Linked DNA regions of Homo sapiens: region 2 is linked to region 1. Evidence: fine-mapped expression QTL. A gene starts in region 1. The other region holds a variant in brackets. All regions are shown on one strand. Distances are from middle to middle.

Region 1 (11,867 bases):
ACTAGTTACTTTTCTTTTTTATTTATTTATTTTATTTTATTATTATTTTTCAGACAGAGTCTCACTCTGTCGCCCAGTCTGGAGTGCAGTTGCACGATCTCGGCTCGCTGCAACCTCCGCCTCCGGGTTCAAGCAATTCTCCCGCCTCAGGCTCCCAGGTAGCTGGGCTTATAGGGACCCACCACCACACCCGGCTAATTTTTGTATTTTTCTAGTAGAGATGGGGTTTCACCATGTTGGTCAGGCTGGTCTTGAACTCCTGACCTCAGGTGATCCACTCGCCTGGGCCTCCCAAAATGCTGGGATTACAGGCGTGAGCCACTGCACCTGGCCATTTATACTAGTTACTTTTCTTTTTCATTTTTTTATTGATACGAAATATTTGTATGTATTTATGGGGTGCATGGGATATTTTGATGCATGCATACAATGTGTAATGATCGTCAGGGTTATCAGGATACCCATCACCTTGAACATTTATCATTTCTTTGTATTGGGAACATTTTAAATCTTCTCTTCTACTCGACATCACTAATTAGCAGAGAAATTGCAAGTCAAAATGACATCACCTCACACCTGTTAGGATGACTATTATCAAAAAGTCAAAAGACAGCAAGTATTGGTGAAGATTAGAGAAATGGGGATGCTTGTACCCTATTGGTGGAAATGTCAATTGGTGCAGCCATTATTGAAAATAGTATAGAGAGGTTCCTCAAAAAATTAAAAATAGAACTACCATATGATCCACTAATACTACTATTGGGTATATTTCCAAAAGAAATAAAAATACTATCTCCAAGAAGTATCTGCAGTCCCATGTTAATTGCAGCATTATTTACAGAAGCCAAAAGATATGGTAACAATCTAAGTGTCCATCAACTGATGAATAAAAAAAGAAACTGTGGTGTGTATTCACACATACACACACACACACACACGGATATTATTCAGCCTTAAAGAAAAAGGAACTCTTACCATTTGCAACAACATGGATGTCTTAGAGAAGAGTATGCTAAGTGAAATAAGCCAGACACAGAAAGACAAATACTGCATGATCTCATATATATGTGGAATCTTAGAAATTAAAGTCAAACTCATAGAAAAAAAATCTTCTCTTCGGCTGGGTGCGGTGGCTCACGCCTGTAATCCCAGCACTTTGGGAGGTTGAGGCGGGTGTATCACAAGGTCAGGAGATCGAGACCATACTGGCTAACACAGTGAAACCCCGTCTCTACTAAAAATACAAAAAAATTAATGGGTGTGGTGGCGGGCGCCTGTAGTTCCCTTAGTCCCAGCTACTCAGAAGGCTGAGGCAGGAGAATGGCATGAATAAAAACACTAGCTCCACACAAGCTCCCGGGAGGCGGAGCTTGCAGTGAGCCGAGATCGTGCCACTGCACTCCAGCCTGGGCGACAGAGCAAGACTCCGTCTCAAAAAAAAGAAAAAAAGAAAAAAATCTTCTCTTTGGAAATACAGTCACCCTTCCGTGTTATCAAAAACTAGAACTTATTCCATCTTATCTGTTTGCTTGTACCCATTCACCAACCTGTCTTCACTCCCCCACCTCTACACCCTTCTGCTCTCTACCTCCATGAGATCAACTTCTTTAGCTCCCACATATGAGTGTGAACATGTGATTTTTGCCTTTCTGTGTCTGATTTATTTCACTTAACAAGATGGCCTCTAGTTCCCTGCATGTTGCTGCAAATGACAGGATTTCATTCTTTTTTATGGCTGAATAGTGTTCCATTGTGTATATATATCATATTTTCTTTACTGATCTGTTGATAGACTTTGGTTGATTTTGTATCTTGGCTATTGTGAATAGTGTGGCTATAAACGGGAGTACAAGAATCCCTTTGATACACTGATTTCCTTTCCTTTGGATAAATAACCAGTGGTGGAATTGATGGATCATATGATAGTTCTATCTTTAGTTTTCTGAGAAGCCGCCATACTGTTTTCCATAATGGGTGTATGGCTATACATTCCCACCAACAGTGTACTCATTACTTTTCTTTTTATCAGATGTCCGTAGCTGTAAGTGTCCTTTGGGCCAGAAGAAAAGTAGTAACCTAATAGTTGGCCTTCACATTGCAAAATTATCCCTTTGAACAGCAATCCCCAACCTTTTTGGCACCAGGGACTGGTTTCGTGGAAGACAATTTTTCCATGGACAGGGGTGGGGAATAGGTTTGGGATGATTCAAGCGCATCATATTTATTGTGCACTTTATTTCTATTATTATTACATTGTAATATATAATGAAATAGTTATACAACTCACCGTAATGTAGAATCAGTGGGAGCCCTGAGTTTGTTTTCCTGCAATTAGACAGGCCCGTCTGGGGGTGACAGGAGATAGTGACAGATCATCAGGCATTAGATTCTCACAAGGGGCACACAACCTAGATCCCTTGAATGTGCACAGTTCACAATTGTGCTCCTATGAGAATCTAATGCCCCAGCTGATGTGACAGGAGGTGGAGCTCAGGCGGCAATGCTAGTCATGGGGAGCGGATGTAAATACAGATGAAGCTTCCCTCATTTGCTTGCCCCTTACTCAACTCCTGCTGTGCCACCAGGTTCCTAACAGGGTACAAAGGGTACTGGTTCATGGCCCGGGGTTGGGGACCTCTGCCTTTGAAGATACCCAACCAGTTTCTTCCTCCAAAACCATTATTGGAATGGTGGATTGTATTATTGTACCCAGTTATTTCTTGTTCTTCTTTTAAGGATATTATTCAGCTCACTTATTGTTGATAGGGACAGTAGACAGGGAACTACTGGGTAGAATAAGGCCGTTCCCTGGCAAAGGCCCCACCCTCAAGCCTGGAAACCCATGGCCCTAAATGAAGAGAGGCATTCCCGTTCTTGTGCCCAAAAGTTACCTTTTGGCCCTCCATGACCCCCTATCCTGTACCCGTATAAACTCCAGACACCAGGCTCCAGCAGCAAAAGATGAGCAGATGAACAGAAGAGCAGAAGAGCAGAAGAGCCGCAGATAAAGAGAAAAGAGAAGGAATATTGGGTGGAGTTCAGCTGGGGACAGTTAGAGAATCCACCGCTGGACGGTTAAACTCCAGGGGAAGATCATCTCCCTACTCCACCCCCTTTCCAGCTCCCCATCCATCCTACTGAGTGCCACCCCTACCACCTAATAAACACCCCCAACCTTCCCCCAACTCCTCTACCCCCGCCCCCACCCCGGCACTCACCATCCTTCAAGTCCATGTGTGACCTGATTCTTCTGGGAGGTGAGACAAGAGCTGAGATACAGAAACTGTCACACTGACCCTCTGCGCTTGCAAAAAGGCAGAGGGTCTATTGAGCTGGTTAACACTTAAGCCGTCAGCTGATGGTAAGGCTAAAAGAGCACACTGTAACACACGCCCATTTGGGCTCCGGGAATCACGGGATCCTGCCCCTGGACACTGCCGTGGGGCTGGAAGCCCAGCGCCCCAGCTTTTGCACCCTGGCTCCTGCACCCGTCCGTCTGCATGCTCCACCTCCCATAAGGGGTTTCAGCAGGCAGAGACCGAACACACGAGCCACAACCCTGTTGCACGTCCTGCAAAGGGCTGTGGGAGGGCGGGGGCCGGGAGGAAATCAGGGAACTCTCCTGTTTCATTGTCACAAGACTTGCAAGGCTTCCTTAAGAGAGGGGTACACTTCCCCACCCACTGACAGCAAGTTTTGACCAATAGAAAGTGAGCAGAACTGAGGCATGCGGAATGTGAGTTTGGAAAGCAGCTTGTGCCAGTCATGTACAGGAGCTAATTGTTAAATTTCCAGGAACTTGGCAAGCCACTTGTTGGACTGTTTGTAGCTTGAAATCGGCCATTGTGGGAGCATTTACATCATAGAAATAGCAAACACTACATATCTGGACTTCCCCCTTCTCCCTCAAAGTTGGTTTACCAGCCCAGCAGGGAGCATGGCCCAGAAAAGTTGACCTTTCAGCCTGGAGTGAAGAAAACTGGTGGAGTACTGCCAAAGCTCCCTGCAGCCACAGTAATTCGCTTGAGAAATGGACCTTTAAGCCACTGAGTTGCAGGGGTTGTTCGTTACCTGAGCATCATCTAGCCAAAGCTGGTACACCATGCTGGTGTTTTGGTGAACACCAATAAGCGCCGCCTTCATCTGTCCCAACCTAGGTTGGAGGGATTTCTTCCAATAACTTGTGACATCATGCGCCTACAGCCTGCAAAGATGCAAACCGCGCTCTGAGACTCAGGCCCGGGAATTCAGGTCTTGGAAGGTTAATGCAAAGTTGTAAAACAATAGTTACATTTCAACCACACTCAGCTATTGCGTCATCTTAAAACCCTGGCCAACACAAATCTGTCGCTCGCGATCCTTGGCGGTTTCAGAGCGACTCCCCTACCGCTTTCGGGCGAAGGCCACACGTGACGGCCCCCCTTTCCCCGCAGACGTGTGAATGCAGCGCTGTGTCTTTAAGGGGCACGCGCGGAGGTTTTCCGTCCGGGACAAAATGTCAGCGAGGCGCCTGGAGGGGGATCTACCATCTCGGACTCCCGACCCGCCGCCGGCTCCGGCCGCGTTTCCCGGGTAAAGGGGTGAGTGTGGGCTTCCAGACTCGGTGGCGAGGCGGGCTGGGCCGGGCAGCGGGGAGCGCAGGTGAGCAGCGACCGCGGACGCCCCTGCCGGCCTCCCTGGCACCCGCGCGGGGCGTGCCCTTCGCTGGGCTGCCCTTCTCCGGGCCGGCTGTCGCGACTGTGAGAAAGCAGGTGGGCCCGGGATTCTGTGGCAAGGCCCCGCTCACCGTCTTCCAGTGCCTCATTCTTGCTCCTTCCCTGCACTCCTCTTTCGACAAGCTTGTTCGGAATGTGGAAATTCGTCACCACTCTCCTGCTCTCCCTTTATTAAAGTTGTCTGATTACAGTCTTTTCACTGGGCAAGTGACTGGACGCCCTGCAGTGGGTTCTTTCTGTAACTGGGACTTGCTTGATGTCGCCCACTTTCGGAGGGAGAAAGCGAATGCAAGCCAAAAGCTTACACCAGAATCCCCACCCCTCCCCCACCCCTCATGGCCCCCAAACAAAAGAATTTTCCGCTCCTTTCGGAGTCCGCTGGAGCAGTTTCTGTGATTTCTTGCACGAACCAAATGCCCGAGGCTTAGCAAAGCAAAAACCCCCTTGAAGGAAAAAAATAAATACTTACCACTAGTCGAATTTCTAATGAGCCAAGACTACAAAGATAAGGTGTTTAAGAGAAACAGTTGTAGAAACAGCTTAATACATTGACCTAATTAGGGTAATTATTTTCTGCTGTTTTTATTCATATGCTGACACCTTTTGGAGGCAAGAATAGCTTGAGGCAGCCAAGAATAAAAAAAAAAGTAGACAGCAATACGTATTATAAAAAGACCAAAAGCCCAAGCCAGGTAATTCTCAATTTAAAAATTAAATTAAAAAAATCTTTGAGTCACAAAGGCCTTCAAAGTAGGGCAGCTTTAAATTCCTATAACTCAGATTAAATTATGCATTTTTACAAGATAAAATGGATCACCACCTTAATCTTTAGGACCATATCTATTAAGCAAAGTAATGCAGACCTGAAATAAAGGTCCACTTTAAGGGCAGAACACTTCACAATTTTCATTTTTAAAAGTGCATTAATAGAGAGAGAGAGTGCTTCTCTGCCTTTTAGCTAATGGTAGAAATATCTAAGAGTTTGGCTTATGCCATTTAGGAAACAACTCTGATTCACCCCTTAATTACCTGTGAGTCCAGTGTATTTTTTACAGTCCACATATAACCTTTTTCTAAATTTTTACACATTTTACCATTTATTCCCCAACTCAGGTTTTACAGTTTGGAGGCATTTTTACTTGTCTTTTAACTTCAGCTAAGCCTTCAGCCTGGTGATTCCAGACTAATTTTTCTAATTGTCTGGATCTCTTTATAAATAGATTAATATATGGCAGTAAACTAATATTTCAACAGAGATGGACGGATAACAGATGAACTGTGGTTTTCTTGACACTTCAGTTGTCAACTCTAATTACTTGTATTAATTATTATGCTCTGCTTTCATTAAAGTCACTGGTGGATGAAGTAAAAGAAAATGTTTTTAGTGTTTCCACATATGTCTGTGTGAATTTCACGTTAGTGTGAATTTCTCATCTAAGATCCAGGCTCAACCAACATATATTGATTTAAACTCTGCCTGGTCAACCCAACTACAGTAAGTAGCCTTGAGTATAGAAGGACAAATAGAGGTGTAGTTAATCTGCTATGTCCTTTTGAGAACAGTGCCTGGTTCTTTGGCCTTTAGCCTGCCAAATATTTTTTATGTGCACAAGCATAAGTATAAAATAATACAATCAACTTTTGTAGGTGCTTTATAGGATGAGTCTCAATATTATAGTCATACCTTGTGTATATGCCCATGTTTATACAGATTATTCATCCAGGTTTTGATCTCTTCCTTTATTCTTTATATTGGTATTCAGGGACATCATACTGAGGAATCTGGGATTTAATCTGATAGTTCATCAGAAGGATAGAACTTCTTCAGAAATTGAGTCAAATGGAGAGATAATTAATGTGAATTTATTGTCTTCCACAGGCTTAGATTTAAGAACTCCTTCCAAATAATGGATACTCAAATGAAACTCAGCTATAGCAAGTGCAGAGGCATGGTACCAGCAACACTACTCTCTCTCCTTCCTTGAAATATCTAAAATCTACATTTGTCTTTTCAGTTTTTTTCACCCTGAAATTACACTCAAAAATTTCCACTGTTAATTTCATGTTAGCAGTGCTTTTATTTAGCTTCAAGAAACTTTCTTTTAAAATAGGAGCTTGGAAGCCTCGTTATACAACTGAGGAACTGGAACTTCATTAGAGTCGAGTACTAAGGGTAATGTGTTTTGGTGATGGACAACAATGCGTTTGTGCCCTGTGGGGCATGGGAGGGGAAGGGATGCTGAACTGCATGAACTTTTGTGTTAGGGCCCCTAAGACATCAGCTCCCAGGAGCTGCCCATGCCCACCCCTTCCCCAGTGGAGATTATGTGACGGAATTCACCCGAAGGAGTGAGCACTGATTTCACCTTTACCACAGTGTGTTAGTAATCTGTTTTCGCGCTGCTGATAAAGACATACCCAAGACTGGGCAATTTATAAAAGAAAGACGTTTAATGGACTTAAAGTTCCACGTGGCTAGGGAGGCCTAACAGTCATGGCGGAAGGCGGAAGGCGAAAGGCACTTCTTACCTGGCTGCGGCATGAGCTATAATGAGGGTCAAGCGAAAAGGGCTTCTCGTTTATAAAACCATCAGATCTCGTGAGATTTATTCACTAGCACAAGAACAGTATGGGAGAAACCGCGCTCGTGATTCAATTATCTCTCACCAGTTCCATCCCACAACACGTGGGAATTATGGGAGTAGGATTCAGGATGAGATTTGGGTGGGGACACAGCCAAACCATATCACACAGGTATCAGAATTATTGTTGGAAGCATCTCTTTCCCAACCAGACCGTACGCTTCCTGAGGGCAAAGACTATGTGACGTTCCTCTTGGAATGCTTGGCAGAAAGCACGCACCTGACCTTAGCAGGTGCACAATGAGCATTTGAATGAGAGTTGGATGGAGTGAATGGATGTAAGCAAAATACTCATTCATTGGCATCTTTGTGTTAGTTTAAAAATTTTTTCAAGGAAAAATTAAGGGAGCTTTTTTCATTTTCTTATTAGCTAACCACAGAATTAATGATATGCATTCTCATTGGGTATTTGGTAAGGAAGAAACGCGTTATCACAGGGCTTTGGCTAATTAAACCTCCCCATTATCTTATTTTACCCTAGTGATAAATAACCTATTTTGCATGAAGTTCAATTTAGGAAGTGAAAATAAATTTAAGGGGTAAGGGTCTTGGATCTGTTACTCTTTTTTATTTGCTCTTTGTAGTCAATTCCCAAGGGGATTCCTCCAACTTAGACTACTTACTCTGTTGAATAACATAATGTCAGATGGAAAAACAACTGCCTTTTAGCCATTAAAATCTTAACGTGGGCATGTCTGAGCAGTAAATATCGGTAGTTTCTTTATTGTTCATGTCTTAAATTTATATAACACCGGAGAGTCCAACAGTGACATCATTTGCACTATCTATGATCTCAGCCACCTGTTTAGAGGCAAATAATCTTATTATTTCTCTTGACAGATGGGAAGATTGAGACTCGGGTGGGCTGGGGCTAAAGAAACAGAGTCAGGTTCACTTCACTTAATGCAGCATCCCCCAAGTGTCTACCCTGTGCCAGGGAGATGAATGGGATGAGCTCCTCTTCCATGACATCCTGGGTGTGAACACAGAATCTCCTTCTGCAGAGCACAGCAAACCACGTGACAATGAGCAGCCTCACATGCTGGGTTTCCTCCTCCAAGCGGCGCAGCAGTGGGCTTCCCCATGGGACTGTCCCACCAGCCTCCACAGTTAAGGCTGGGCTGGCCCTGCCTGAGCTCACATGCTTGAGGAGCCAAGGGTTGTTTTGCTTTTTTGTTTTTGTTTTTTGTTTTTCTGAGATGGAGTTTCGCTCTTACTACCCAGGCTGGAGTACAATCGTGCAATCTCGGCTCACTGCAACCTCCGCCTCCCAGGTTCAAGCGATTCTCCTGCCTCAGCCTCCCGAGTAGCTGGGACTACAGGCACCCACCACCACGCCTAGCTAATTTTTTGTATTTTTAGTAGAGACGGGGTTTCACCATGTTGGCCAGGCTGGTCTTGAACTCCTGACCTCAGGTGATCTACCTGCCTTGGCCTCCCAAAGGGCTGGGATTACAGGTGTGAGCCACCACACCCAGGCCCAAGGGTTGTTTTATAAAATTATTTTTTATTTATGTAGAGATCCTGTGATATACACACTTTCCCTAAATGTATACACGTGATCACATGCATGCTTTCTTAGTACCTCATTGCTTTTACTTTTGTGTTTACCTCTTCCCCTTCTCCCTCCTTTCACATCAGTTACCATTGCCTCAACCATAGTATCTCCTTATTTTTCTTCATCTATAGCTATATATTGCCTCTACAGATATGTATATTACTTAATAATAGTGGGATCATATTATACACTCTTCTGCATCTCTCTTTTCTCCCTGAACAGTTCCTCCAGATATCCTTGTAAGACATTGAACAGAACTTCATCCTTTTCCTCTTTAATGGCTGTATAATATTCCCTGGTATGAACATATGTTATATACTCAGCCATTTTCCTGGTGGTAGGCATTCCCTTGCTTCCAGTTTCTTGTCATTCTACATGATTCTGATGTAGATTCTGATGTCATTCTACGTGAACATCCTGATACAAGACTGTGTTTATTGGTGCTGATAGTTCTATAGAAGAGATCCCCAGGAGTAGAATCTCAGGTTATCTTTTTTTTTTTTTTTTCAATACAGCATTTCGCTGTTGTCACCCAGGCTGGAATGCAATGGTGCTATCTCGGCTCACTGCAATCTCCACCTCCCAGGATCAAGCCATTCTCCTGCCTCAGCCTCCCAAGTAGCTGGGATTATAGGCACCCGCCACCATGCCCAGCTAATTTTTGTATTTTTAGTAGAGACAGGGTTTCACCATGTTGGCCAAGCTGGTCTCGAACTCCTGACCTCAGGTGATCCACCTGCTTGGAACTCCCAAAGTGTTGGGATTACAGGCGTGAGCCACCGAGCCCAGCCTCTATTTTTAATTAATATAGAAATTGCAGCTGGCCCTATCACACAGGTATCAGAATTGTTGGAAGCATCTCTTTCCCCACCAGATGGTACGCTTCCTGAGGGCAGAGACTATGTGACATTCCTCTTGGAATGCTTGGCAGAAAGCACGCACCTGACCTTAGCAGGTGCACAATGAGCATTTGAATGAGAGTTGGATGGAGTGGATGGATGTAAGCAAAATACTCAAATTCATTGGCACCTTTGTGTTAGTTTTAAAAAATGTTCAAGGAAAAATTGAGGGATCTCTTACTTTTCATTTTCTTCTTATTAGCTAACCACAGAATTAATGACATGCATTCTCATTGGGTATGCTCACGACTGTAATCCCAGCACTTTGGGAGGCCGAGGCAGGTGTATCACTTGAGCCCAGGTGTTCAAGGAAGACCAGCCTGGGCAACAGAGACCCTGTCTCTACAAAAAATACAAAAATTAGCCAAGCATGGTGGCATGCACCTGTAGTCCCAGCTACTTTGGAGGCTGAGGTGGGAGGATCACTTCTTGAGCCTGGGAAGCAGAGGTTGCAGTGAGCCATGATTGTGCCACTGCACTCCAGCCTGGGTGACAGAGCAAGACCCTGTCTTAAAAAAAATTAAAAAAAAAAAAAAAAGAAAGAAAGAAAAGAAATGGCCAGAATGCTTTCCTAAAATCCATCCCATCTTCACTAGTAATTGAGGAGTGTGCCTTTTCTCTACCTCCCTTGTAACTTTGGCTGTTAGACCTCTTAATGTTTCTTGGTGTGATGGATGTAAAACGATACCTTATTGCTACTTTAATAGCATTTCCCTGAATATAAGTGATGTTGTGCACCTTTTCATAAATTTCCTGGCCAGTGGAGCTGTTAGGTCATTTGCCTACTCATATTTCTCGTCTGTTTTTCTGTCGGTCTTTTTGTCTTTTTATTGTGTTTGAAGAGCTCTTTGTGTGTTACGGTTGTGGCTGAAGTGTCTGAAGAGGTTTCTCCCCCTCCACATTGCAGGGGCAGCTGAAATGCACTCGAGTTTTTTGTTTTTTGTTTATACTTTAAGTTCTAGGGTACATGTGCACAACGTGCAGGTTTGTTACATATGTATACATGTGCCATGTTGGTGTGCTGCACCCGTTAACTCGTCATTTACATTAGGTATATCTCCTAATGCTATCCCTCCCACGCCACCCCACGACAGGCCCCTGTGTGTGATGTTCCCCACCCTGTGTCCACGTGTTCTCATTGCTCAATTCCCACCTATGAATGAGAACATGCGGTGTTTGGTTTTCTGTCCTTGTGATAGTTTGCTCAGCTAACCAGGCTGTTACGGCCTGTGGCCATAGACTGCTGGTCACTCAGCAGATACTGAGACTGAGGATTGTATTGAGCTAGAATATAGCCGCATGATGTGGAGGACTGAGAAGGTGAGGCAGTTTTGCCCCGTGCTGCCTTCCACCGGTTAAGACCTCCAAAATCGAAGGGCTGCCCAGGCAGAGGATGTCCCCTTGCCACCCTTGGAGGGGCAGCGCTGTGCTGGCCGACATTTGTGATGCAGCCTGTCCCTGGCTCAGGTGAGGCTTCCACTAGGTCAAAAGGATTAAGACATCGAAGTCAGTGCTTCTCATCCTTGTGCCCACTTTAACTCCTAACAGATGGCATTCACCTGTGCGACACTCCCTCTGGGCATTCCAGTTTTTAAGGAAACCCAGAGAGGTAAAAAGCATGACAGTAATCAGTCACCTCTGGCACTATCAGGGGCACATCAGTAAGGATGACTCTCAGACTTTGGCACAAGTAAGAGAATCTGCGGGTTTATGTGCAGTTTCCAAGCTTTGGCTCAAGAAAGCATATCAGAATGCAAAGCAATACTCTTGATGTTATAGGAAACGTTTACATCCCTTTTAATTTATAAAGTAAATTAGTCGTAAAGATTCATTATAATAGTCTCTGCACTTTTGTGTTTGTCCAGTAATAAAAAAGGACCTCAGGAAAGATCAGATTCAATATAGAAGGAAATAGAAATTTTAAAAAAGAAAAAAGTATAGGAAAAATTTTAGGTAAAGTTAGATAATTAAAAATGTTTATAACACTTAAATCTTACTCTGTTTAGCAACCATAATGTTATATAACCATAATATTTACTGGCCATAAAAACAC
Region 2 (11,867 bases), 39 kb before region 1:
CTCATTTGGCAACAAAACGTAACCCAACTCATGTAAAAGTATTCCATTTAATGCAAAAATTCACATGCCTCACTGTATAAATATCAATGTATTTGATTATGGAGAACAGCCCCATGGGGGTGTTTTCTACCATAAGGTGTATGTGTCATATACCTTTCTAAAATCCAAAAAATTAAGAATTTTGGTCCTAAGGTTTTCAGATAAAAGCTGTGGATCTGAAGTGCCTATTTCATAAGGTTGTCATGAGGGTTAAATAAATAATAAGGGAAAGGTGCTTAGAAGAGTACTTGGAAGAAAATAAGTGTTCTAGATGGGTTTTCTATTATGAGGAACTCCCCTCCCCGCCCCGAAGTATATTCCTGAGAGATGTTACCTGGCATTTATCTGACTCCCAGGAAGGAGAACTAACGTCTTTATGAGTCAGTCTAGTTTAACTATTGGATGTTTCTAATCTAACCTTATAATAAGCTGAAATTTGCTTTCTCTAACTTCCCCACACCAATCACAGCTATATTTCAACACAACTTTTGCAGATAGCTACTCTGCCTCCCCTGGGTCTTCTTTTCTACATGGTTAATTGTTCATCAGATATTGCTCAGACCTATCTGTTAGTTCCCCTCCCTCACCCCCGCCCCACTCCAGTTTGCCATTATATCCTTTCAAATGCAGTGCCCAAAATAAAATCCAGAGGTCTATATAGGTTCTGATCAGCATAGAGTGCAGTCCACATTTTCTCTATGCTCCAGACTGTGAAAAACAACTGCATCTCTGTGTGAAAACAGAATCGAGATGAGAGGAGATCTGGAAACACAATCAAGGCCATCTAGGAGTTTCATTAGAAAAACATACTTTAAAAATTCAATTTCAAACCAATTTTTTTCTGGCTTCCCAGAACCGAGATGGAAAACAGTGAGCAGCCTAGACTGATGGAAATGTGCACGTCAAACAGTGTAGAGGTAGGGTGGGTGACGTTATGCCAATTCTTTTACTGCGAAACACTACAGACAGTAATGCCAGAGCTAGTGTGAAGGTCATGGACCGCATCCCACAGTCCAAGAAAAATGAATGATATTCCAACAGAAAGAGAAGAACAGAGCTAAATAAAACTCTTGACAAGTATCAGGGCCAATCCACAGCAAATTACTGTGAAACAGGAGGACACTGCTCCCTCCGGTGGGCACAGCTAGATCTTGCCTCATGCCTGGCCCCGGCCCTGATACCCTCTGGTTAAAGGGAACCTGAGCAAACAAACCCACCAGAGGGGAAGTAATCCATTTCTAAGGTAGAAATGTGATCACTCATTCAATATGTGACAGGAATGACGAGAAAAACCATTCTCTTACAGTGACCATCCTGGCTACCTGCAAAGTATGCTTAGAATTCTAGATCCCTTTGGAGTCTCGGTAAAGATCTCCCAAGGGCTGGCTGATGGGGACACGGGGATTTATTATTTTATTATTTATACTTTGTGGATGTTTAAAATTTTTCATAATAAAATCTTTTGAAAAAATCCTCAGGTAGCTATAACTTTTTAAAACAACTAGAGACCCATGATGACAGTCTAATAATCACATCTGTCCTCCTTTTCCCCCACACTGAAGATTTTTTTTTAAATTAGATGGTACTTTCACTACTAAACTAGTTGGGAAAACGTTGGTAATTTTTTATGTGGACACAGATCATACAAAAGATTACAGACCTAATAACTGAACAGAGAAATAAACTATCCAGAAAGAATTTGGACACTGAAAACTATGTTCAAACCTAGGTTGATGAATGAAATTGTCATCAAGCTAATATCTGGGTAAAGGGAAGGACGTTAATAAGTCTGGGAATCTTTAGCCAGGTTTCTTGTTTAGTCCACTGAGAAATGGACTTGTGATCATGGTCCTCAGACTCAAACCAAACCCCGTACAACCACACAGACAAAAGGGTAGCCAGGGCATTGATTAGGCAAATAGACTTTGACCTAGTTCTGGTCCGATGCATCTGTGAATTGACTTCCAATTTATTTATTAATACTTGAGTTAAAGTAAATGCTCCAGAATGAGCTGATGATGTTTCGTGTGCTGACACTTGGCTCCAGTCAGGGCCTCCAGGGGACCAGAACTCTTGAGCACCATTTCACATCCTTTTGGCCTGGCCACTTACCCCAGTCACTGGTGAAGGCAAGCAGTTCCACACAGGCATAACCTGACCTTGCCTCAGCCCAGACACTGGATCTGTAGCTTTTGCTCCAAGGCTTGTCTGACACCAGAGTCTGTGATGCCTGTGGAAAGCTGCTTGGCAGTCATGCATGCACAACCCATAAAGGTGGGCAATTACTACTTCTGAGGTTCCCTTTGGATGGCACGTTGTAGGTGAACAGGATTAAGAATCCCCATGTCCCCATCAGCCAGCCCTTGGGAGATCTTTACCCAGACTTCAAAGGAATCTAGAATTCTAAGCATACTTTGCAGGTAGCCAGGACGGTCACTGTAAGAGAAGAACGTTTTTCTCATCATTCCCATCACAGCTTGAGTGGTAAGTGCAGATCCAGCAGCAACACAATTAAGGTTCTCACCTGTGGTGGATTGGGATGAGGTACAGGTGGAAGGGAGAGGCTCTGGGTCAAGTGGTAACTATGGTCCTTGGACAATATGGAGGCAATTATAATTGTAAAGGAATGGGGAATTCACTGGCTTTTGTTAACTGCTTTGAAAGTCTCAAAATAAGAAAATGACAGGGTCATGTTAGACAACTATCAACTCAAGCCCACGGTGAAATAGAGCAATGGTTAAAAGAATTTGATCTCCTGCAGGCACAGGGAATACTGTCTTGAAGATTAAGACAACAGTTGACAAAGTCATAGAGGAGACAGAACGCCAAGCCTTCACAGATCTCCTATTTCAAAGTTAGAACCCTGATAGGAAAAGCTTAAAATCTTAAGAGCTGGGATAGGATAGACAAGTCTGAGAATATTGAGTCACTAGATTAATTTTCATCCTCTAGGAGAGCAAAGTCAGCCTTCTTCTCCTTGCTGGGGACATCAGCCTCATCTTGCCAGGAGACCCTGAAAATACCTCACCTGAATCTTGCTTTGCAAAGTGATGTCTGTCTTCCTCAAGGTCTCCTTCCATCTCCAATTAACTGACTCCATGATAACTGGAGTCAGGTTTTGGCTCAAGCAGGTGGGGAAATGTATCCCTGCTGCAGTAGGAAATAGTTTACTAAAGAAACTGAAGGACCTGGGGTATTAGACTGTTCTCACACTGCTATAAAGAAATACCTAAGACTGGGTAATTTATAAAAGAAAGAGGTTTAACTGACTCACAGTTCTGCATAGCTGCAGAGGCCTCAGGAAACTTACAATCATGGTGGAAGGCAAAGAGGAAGCAAAGACCTTCACAGGGTGGCGGGAGTGAGAAGTGTAAGCAGGGGAAATGCTGGATGCTTATAAAATCATCAGATCTCGTGAGAACCCACTCATTATCACGAGAACAGCATGGGGGAAACCTCCCCCATAATCCAGTCACCTCCCTCCCTCAACACATGGGGATTACAGGCCCCACCCTCAGCACATGGGGATTACAATTCGAGATGAGATTTGGGTGGGGACACAGAGCCAAACCATTCACCTGGGTAATGTATACAGGCAGGAACCTGGATAAGCTTGTGAAAGTGGATCTTGAGGATGTTGCACTAGGGTGGGTGAGTGGAATAGAAAGCTGGATAATGGTGAATTTATTGACCTGGGAGCACCCTTCCTTGATCAGAAAACTCAGTGTCCTGGCAAGGATACCTGTAGCAATACACTGCAAGAGTGATTTCTTGAGGCTTGGACAAAATAGTGGCCTATAATAAATAAAGTCCAGAAGCTGCAACTTGCCTGGACTGGAGCTTGCCATAGCACTAAGGAAGGAGTCAGAAAGCTCAGGGATGTGAAAATATTAAAGATATTTATTTTTTCTTTTGATTATGTATTTATGACAGATTTCAGAAAGTTTTCATCAGGAATTCATAGAAGCAAAATGTAATTAAATTTCTACAAGCATTTATCTTCTTAAAAGTTTGTAGGGCCGGGTGCTGTGGCTCACGCCTGTAATCCCAACATTTTTGGAGGCCAAGGCAGATAGGATTGCTCGAGCTCAGGAGTTCAATACCACCTAGGTAACATGGAGAGACCCTGACAACAAATTTTAAAAGAGCCAGGCATGGTGGCACACACCTGTAGTCCCAGCTACTCGGGAGGCTGAGGTGGGAGAATCACCTGAGCCCAGGAGACTAAGGCTGCAATGAGCTGTGATTGTGCCACTGCACTCCAGCCTGGGTGACAGAAAGAGACCCTGTCTCAAAAAAAATAAAGTTTGTAGGAAACACAGATAGATCTCACTTTTCAAAACTGAATTCCATCAAGCTCTTCAATTTTTGTCATCCTCCTCAAATGACGTATATTGGCAAATAAGGCACAATTTATTCTTGAACAGTAGTAACTAACTTTTTTTTTTTTTTGAGAAAGAGCCTTGCTCTGTCGCCCAGGCTGGAATGTAGTGGCACAAACTCAGTTCACTGCAGCCTCCACCTCCCAGTTCAAGCTATTCTTCTGCCTCAGCCTCCTGAGTAGCTGGGACTAAAGGTGCCCACCACCACACCTGGCTAATTTTTTGTAGTTTTAGTAGAGACGGGGTTTCACCGTGTTAGCCAGGATGGTCTCGATCTCCTGACCTCGTGATCCGCCCACCTCAGCCTCCCAAAGTGCTAGGATTACAGGCGTGAGCCACTGAGCCCGGCTGTAACTAACTTTTAAGAGATTTAATTTTATTGTGGTAAAATATACAGAACATAAAATTTGCCATTTTAAGTGTACAGTTGAGTGGCACTAAGTATATTCTCACTGTCATGCAACCATTCCCACCATCCATCTCCAGAATTTTTTTTATCACCCTAAACTGAAACTCTGTTCTCATTAAACAATAACTTCCCAATCTACTATTCCCCCAGACCCTGGAAACCTCTATTTTACTTTCTGTCTCCATGAATTTGTTTGTTGTAAGTACTTCATATTAATGGAATCATACAATATTTTTCCTTTTGTGGTTAGTTTAGTTAGCATAATGTTTTCAAGGTTCATCCTTGAAAGGATGATGTAGGAGATACCCAAATTTCTTGTCTTTAAAAAGATGAATAATATTCCATTGTATGTGTATACATCCATTCGTCTGTTTTGACATTTGAATTGTTTATGCCTTTTGGCTTTTGCAAATTAACACTTCCGTGGACGTTGGTGTACAAGTATCTATTTGAGTCTCTGCTTTTAATTCTTTGGGGGCATATACTTAGGAGTGGAATTGCTAAATCATATGGTAATTCTCTGTTTAACTTTTTGAAGAACCACCAAACTGCTTTCCATTGCAGCTGCACAATTTTATATTCCCACCAGCAATGCACAAGAGTTCCAATTTCTCTACATTCTTGCCAACAACTGTTATTTTCCTTTTTAAAGAAAACAGTGGGGCGTGGTAATCCAAGCACTTTGGGAGGCCAAGGCGGGGGAATCATTTGAGGCCAGGAGTTTGAGACCAGCCTGGACAACATAGAAAGAATGTATCCCTACAAAAAAAAATTAAAATAAAAGAATTTAGCTGGCATGGCGGTGCATGCCTGTAGTCCCAGCTACCCCAGAGGCTGAGGTGGAAGAATCACTGAAGCCAGCCCAGGAGTTTGAGGCTGCAGTGAGCTATGAGTGCCACTGCATTCCAGCTTGGGTGACAGAGCAAGACCCTGTCTCTTTTTCCTCAAAAGTGAAACAAAACAACGTGAAAATCCTAACAGGTGTGAAGAATTTAGAAATTTCTTTTACTATTAATTCTTCAAACATTTTTCTCCCTCCTTTTTCCTTTCCTTCTTTTACTTCAGATGCACACATGATATTGTTCTCCAGCTCACTGATGTGCTGTTTCTCCATCTTTTCTCTGTGCTTCACTTTGGGTAGCTTCTTTTCCTGTGTCATTATGTTCACTGTTCTTTTCTTCTGCAGTGTCTAATCTGCTATTATATCTATCCAGTGTATTTTCAATTTTGGATGTTGTATTTTTATCACTAAAAGCTTGAGTTTAGTCCTTTATAAATCTTCTATTTCTTATAACTTTCACGTCCTTTCATCTCTTTATATAAGAAACATATTTCTTTCTTTCTTTCTTTTTTTTTTTTTGAGACAGTGTCTCACTCTGTCACCCAGGCTGGAGTGAGTGGCACAATCTCAGCTCACTACAGCCTCAACCTCCTCAGCTCAGGCGATCCTCCCATCATAGCCTCCCAAGTAGCTGGGATACAGGTGTGCACCACCACACATGAATAATTTTTTGTATTTTGTGTAGAGATGGATTTTCACATTGCCCAGGATGGTCTTGAGCTCCTGGGCTCAAGCAATCCACCCGCCTCAGCCTCCCAGAGAGCTGGTATTACAGGTGTGAACCACCAGGCCTAGCCAACATATTTCCAATAGCTATATTAACCTTCTTGTCTGATAATTCCATAGTCTCTGTTGTTTCTGGGTCTGAGTCTTGTGACCAATTTTTCTCTTGACTGTTCTTCATATTTTCTTTTTCTTCATATGTCTATTAATTTCAGATTAGATTCTAGATATTGTAAAGTTTACATTGTTGGGTGCTGAAATTCTGTATTTCTTTGAAGAGTGTTGAATCTTTTCTGTTGGACTTTTACTTGCAGATTAGTTTGATCCTTTTGAGGTATGTTCTAGGCTCTTTTAGCGTGTTCTAGAGTAGCATTTATTTGAGAAATAATTTAGCCCCACTTCAAACTGTTGCCTTTCCAGGATTTTTACTGAATGTCGTGTGTATTCACCAAGGTCTGTTTACTCTGACTAGAGGGAACTCAAATGATTCCCAGCTCTGTGTGAACTCTGGTTATTGGTTATTTGTCTCACAGCTTACACAGAA[C/T]TATTCTTTCCTTGAAAGTTGTTCTTGTCCAGTCCTATGGGATTTCATCCTATTCCTGACTAGTTTGGTGTTCAGGCAAAGAATCAAGAGTCTCACCGTTGCCCAGGCTGGAGTGCAGTGGCACCATCATGGTTCACTGCAACCTCTGCCTCCCCAGGCTCAGGGGATCCTCCCCCTCAACCTCCCAAGTAGCTGGGACCACAGGTGTGCACCACCACACCCAGCTAATTTTTTGTATTTTTTGTAGAGACAGGATGTCGCCATGTTACCCAGGCTGGTCTCAAATTCCTGGGCTCAAGCGATCTACCCACCTCAGCCTCCCAAAGTGCTGGGATTACAGGTGTGAGCCACTGCACCCAGCCAAAGATTTCTTGAGAGCTCTCCTCTCAAGTAATGCTATGGTTTGAGTGTTTGTCCCCTCTGAAACTCATGTTGAAACTTAATCCCCACTGTAACAATATTAAGCGGGGGGCGGTGGGGGAGGAATTCAACTATAGTATTTGAGAGGCGGCACCTTTGGATGTCATTAGAATGAGATAAAGTCACGAGTGTGGGACATGAGTGGCTTCGTGAGGAGCTAAGCTAGCATGCTTAGCTCCTTCTCTATGCCCTACACCACCTCGGGACTCTGCAGAGATTGCCTACCAATAGGAAGGCCCTCCAGATGCACCCCCTCAACCTTGGACTTTCAGCCTTCAGAACTGTGAGAAATAGATTTCTCTTCATGATAAACTAAGTAGTCTCAGGTATTTGGTTATAACAACAGAAAATGGACTTAGACAGGTGCTCTGCCTTATAAATCATAGCTACCTTGGTCTTCTTGAACTATAATCTCTGTTCAATTCAATGACAACACTTTGTATAATTTCATCTCCCTGAATCACAATCTTGGAGCTACCTGCAGGCAGAAAGCCTACACCAGGGTGTATTTTGCCCCTTTCGTTTCCTTTTCATGGGGATCACAATCTCGTTGGACTCTTACCCAATGTCTTAAAATAGTTTTTTTCCTACATTTTGTTTAGTTTTCTAGTTGCTTACTTTCAAAATGTAATTGCAGGCTGGCTTACTCCTTCATGATTGAAAGCAGAAGTTTTTGAAAAGGATTTTTAGTGTCAGCTCAGGCTCAGGTAGAACGACCTGTTGGTAATGACACTGTCCTCCAAAATATTGTATATATGTGCTAAAACAATAGCTGATACATGGTGTTATGTTCCCAGTGTCTAGCAACATTGGTCCAGGAAACATGAGGTAGAAGTAGGATTGCCCCCCTCACCATCACTTCTCATGATCCACTTAAAAGTGTTGTGCATTTCCCATCAAATGAGCCTAGGTTCTGCTGAATTAATTGTCCCACTTTCAGGTGGGTGAATGTACGCACTAGCAGAAATGATAGCGCTTCCATTCACCTTAAAGTGTGATTATTGTTTTTGAATTTTGGGTTCCTCATGGCAGTAGACCAGCAAGAAAAAAGAGGTGTTCCTATGCTGAAAAGAGTAATCGACTCTGATTACCATGAAGAGCTAAGGCTGCTGTTACATTATGTGTGCAGGAAGGACTGTGTCTAGGACATAGAAGATTCACAGGGACATCTATTGATGATTCCATGACTGGTGATGGTGGATGGGCAATCGCAGTGATCATGACTTTACAAGGTCAACTAAAGGCTCAGACCCCTCAGAGGTAAAGTTTTGAGTCAGCCATCAGGAAAGCAACCTACATCAGCCAAATAATTGGCTAAGGTTAAGGGAAATCTAGAGCAAATGGTGGAAAATGGAGATGACAAGTACTATTTATGGATTTGGAACCTGTTGCATCAGCAGGGAATGTAACTTGTTCTATTCACCTTCCTGTATTTAGTGTTTGTAGGATTTGGAGCTAGCCACTCTCTAGAAGAAGACTCTGGGCAGACTGGACTTAATGCAGAGCACAAAAGTCCTAAGAAGTGCAAAGGTGAAACGTAATGGAAATCTGTTGTGGTTTCCAAACATGTTCTCAACTTCTTTGATGTTCCTTCCTTCAAAAAGTGAAGCTAGGCTGGAAGCGGTAGCTCACACCTGTAATCCTAGCATTCTGGGAGGCCGAGGCGGGTGGATCACGAGGTCAGGAGTTCAAGACCAGCCTGGCCAATATGGTGAAACCCCGTCTCTACTAAAAATACAAAAATTAGCTGGGCGTGGTGGCGCACGCCTGTAGTCCCAGCTACTCGGGAGGCTGAGGCAGAAGAATTGCTTGAACCCGGGAGGCGGAGGTTGCAGTGAGCCAAGATTGTGCCACTGCACTCCAGCCTGGGCAACAGAGCGAGACTCTGTCTCAAAAAAAAAAAAAAAAGGAAGCCTAATTCCCTTCTCCTTGAGTGTGAAATGTACCTAGTGATTCACTTCTAAATAATAAAAGGTGGTGGAAGTGACAGCGGGTGATTTCCAAAACCAGGTCATAAAAGACATTGTGACTTTTTCCTCCCCCCATAATCACTCACTCTGGGGGATGCCATGTGCCATGTTACAAGGACACTCAGCAGACCTACTGTGAGGCCCATGTGGCAGGGACACTGGAGCCTCCTGCCAAGGGCCATGTAATGCACCACCTTGCAAGTGGATCTTTCAGCCCCAATCAAGTTTTCCGATGAATGCAGCCTTGGCTTGAAATATTGAATATAATGTCATGGCAGACCCTGAGCTAGAACCAGCCAGCTAAGTGACTCCTGAATTCCTGACCCACAGGAATTGTGGAGAATAGCTGTTCGTTTGTTGTAAGACACTAAGTTTGGAGGGTAATCTGTTAAGCAGCAATGAGTAACTAACACAATACTTCTGGAGCACTTTCCATCCTCTTGTTTGACTCTTGGTTCTGCATAGGCTTTGACCAGCTACACACAGGTGCAATCTGAAGCATGCCACATCAGCCCATGCATGCTGTGTACTCTAGCTCCCTACCCTGGGAATTCTCTAAGGTGCAGGGCACCTGCAAGAGGGCTTTAAGCACTGACACAAGGAGAAAGAAGCCAACAGATAAATGTTTTCCCTTCCACCACCCAGGTGTTAGGTTCTGAAGTAGATTTCAGAAAACTCCTCAACGGTCCTGACAGGCTTGTACAACAGTTGCTCAGTTGTAGCCAATGTGATCATGTGTTTTTGTTTTTACCTCACTTTTTATTATAAAAATGTTCAAGCATACAGAGAAGTTGAAAGAATGCTACAGTCAAAACCCATATATCCCTATCTAGATTGTACAACTAATATCTTATTCTATTTCTTTTATCATACGTATATCCATTTATCTATTATTCTATCCATCTACTAATCTATTTTATTTTTAATGCATTTCAAAGTACTTTTCAGATAACAGTATAATTCACCCTTAACACTTCAGCATGCATATCATTAACTAAACTTCAGTATTCATTTATGATGTCTTTCTTTTAAGGCAAAATTTATATTCAATAAAATGAACACTTGTAAGTGTACCATTCAGTAAGTTTTGAAAAGTACATTGACATGTGTAACCCAAACTCCTTTGAAGATGTAGAGGAACATTCCCTCATGCCTGCTCTCTGTCAACTCCTACTTGTACGCCCACATCTGCACAGATCACTATTTTGATTTTTCTTCATTGCAGATTAGTTCTGCCTATTCTAGAACTTTAAATAGGAAAATACCATATTATTTTGCGTAAGGCTTTTTTCACCCAGCATGCTTTAATATTTACCCATATTATTATATCAATACTCTATTCCTTTTTATGGCTGGGCAATATTCCATTGCATGAACATACCACAGTTTTTTTATCCATTCTTCTGTTAATGGGCTGTTTCCAGTTTTTGTTTTGTTTTGTTTTGTTTAGAAACAAGGTCTTACTGTATCACCCAGGGTGGGTGATTATAGGTCACTGCAGCCTTGAACTCCTGGGCTCAAGTGATCCTCCCACCTCAGCCTCCTAAGTAGCTAGGACTACAGATGTGTGCCACCATGCCTGGCTAATGTCTTTATTTTTTGTGAAAACAGGGTCTTGCTATGTTCCCCAGGCTGGTCTCGAACTCCTGGCCTCAAGCGATCTTCCTATCTGAGGTTCTCAAAGTGCTAGGATTACAGGCATGAGCCACCGTGCCTGGCCTGTTTCCAGTTTCTGACTATAACACATAATGCTGCTTGCTGTGAACACTCTTTTTTTTTTTTTTTTTTTTTGAGACAGAGTCTTGCTCTGTCACCCAGGCTGGAGTGCAGTGGCGCGATCTCTGCTCACTGCAAGCTCCACCTCCTGGGTTCATGCCATTCTCCTGCCTCAGCCTCCCAAGTAGCTGAGACTACAGGCGCCTGCACCACGCCCAGCTAATTTTTTGTATTTTTAGTAGAGACGGGGTTTCACCATGTTAGCCAGGATGGTCTCGATCTCCTGACCTCGTGATCCGCCCGCCTCAGCCTCCCAAAGTGCTGGGATTACAGGCGTGAGCCACCACGCCAGGCCATGAACATTCTTAAACAAGTCTGTTTATATACAGATATTTTCATTTCTGCTGGGCAAATATCTAGGAATGAAATTGCTGGGTCATAGAAAGTGTGTGTTTAGTTTTTTAAGAAAGTGCCAGACCTTTCCAAAGTTGTACCAATTTACACCCCTACCAACAATTGATGAGAGCTCTGACTGTTCCACACCCTCACCAACATTTGTTGCTGCAGTCTTTTTAATGTAGCCATTCTAATAGGCATCTAGTAGGTATCTCGTGGTGGTTTTCATTTGAATTCTGGTGACTAGTAACACTGAGACCTTTCATGTGCTTGTTGGTCCTTCCTCTGTTGACAGTGCATGCTTGCAGTGGCTTTTCTTCCTCCCCTGCTTTACTCTCATTCCTTACTCCTGATCCCTAGTATCATTTTGCAAATAAACTACCTGTCTATGAGTTTTTGTTTTGGCTTAAGTTTAGGCATATCCAGG

Evidence for each region. PIP is the estimated chance that this variant, and not a neighbour inherited with it, causes the effect.
Region 2: its variant is fine-mapped to the expression of ZBED3-AS1 in thyroid (GTEx, PIP 0.96).

The regions. Positions count from the first base shown.
Region 1 is chr5:77,079,824-77,091,690 of GRCh38, reverse strand. It overlaps ZBED3-AS1 (ZBED3 antisense RNA 1), which reads right to left and starts at 4,976. Exons shown (of 3, transcript NR_182763.1): 1 at 4,072-4,976. It overlaps ZBED3 (zinc finger BED-type containing 3), which reads left to right and starts at 4,406. Exons shown (of 3, transcript NM_032367.4): 1 at 4,406-4,580. SNORA47 (small nucleolar RNA, H/ACA box 47) reads left to right here and starts at 11,120; the gene lies at 11,120-11,257. It also overlaps a transcript of PDE8B not described here. RefSeq lists enhancers at 2,943-3,543, 3,544-4,146, 4,147-4,748 and a silencer at 4,565-4,734.
Region 2 is chr5:77,118,909-77,130,775 of GRCh38, reverse strand. The region is part of intron 2 of ZBED3-AS1 (ZBED3 antisense RNA 1); the gene reads right to left. It overlaps LOC124901008 (a long non-coding RNA gene), which reads left to right. Exons shown (of 3, transcript XR_007058827.1): 2 at 893-956; 3 at 2,992-3,068. It also overlaps a transcript of PDE8B not described here. Among named protein-coding and RNA genes, the nearest start is that of ZBED3, 38 kb to the right of the region's middle. The variant C/T (reference allele first, on the strand shown) is at 6,939.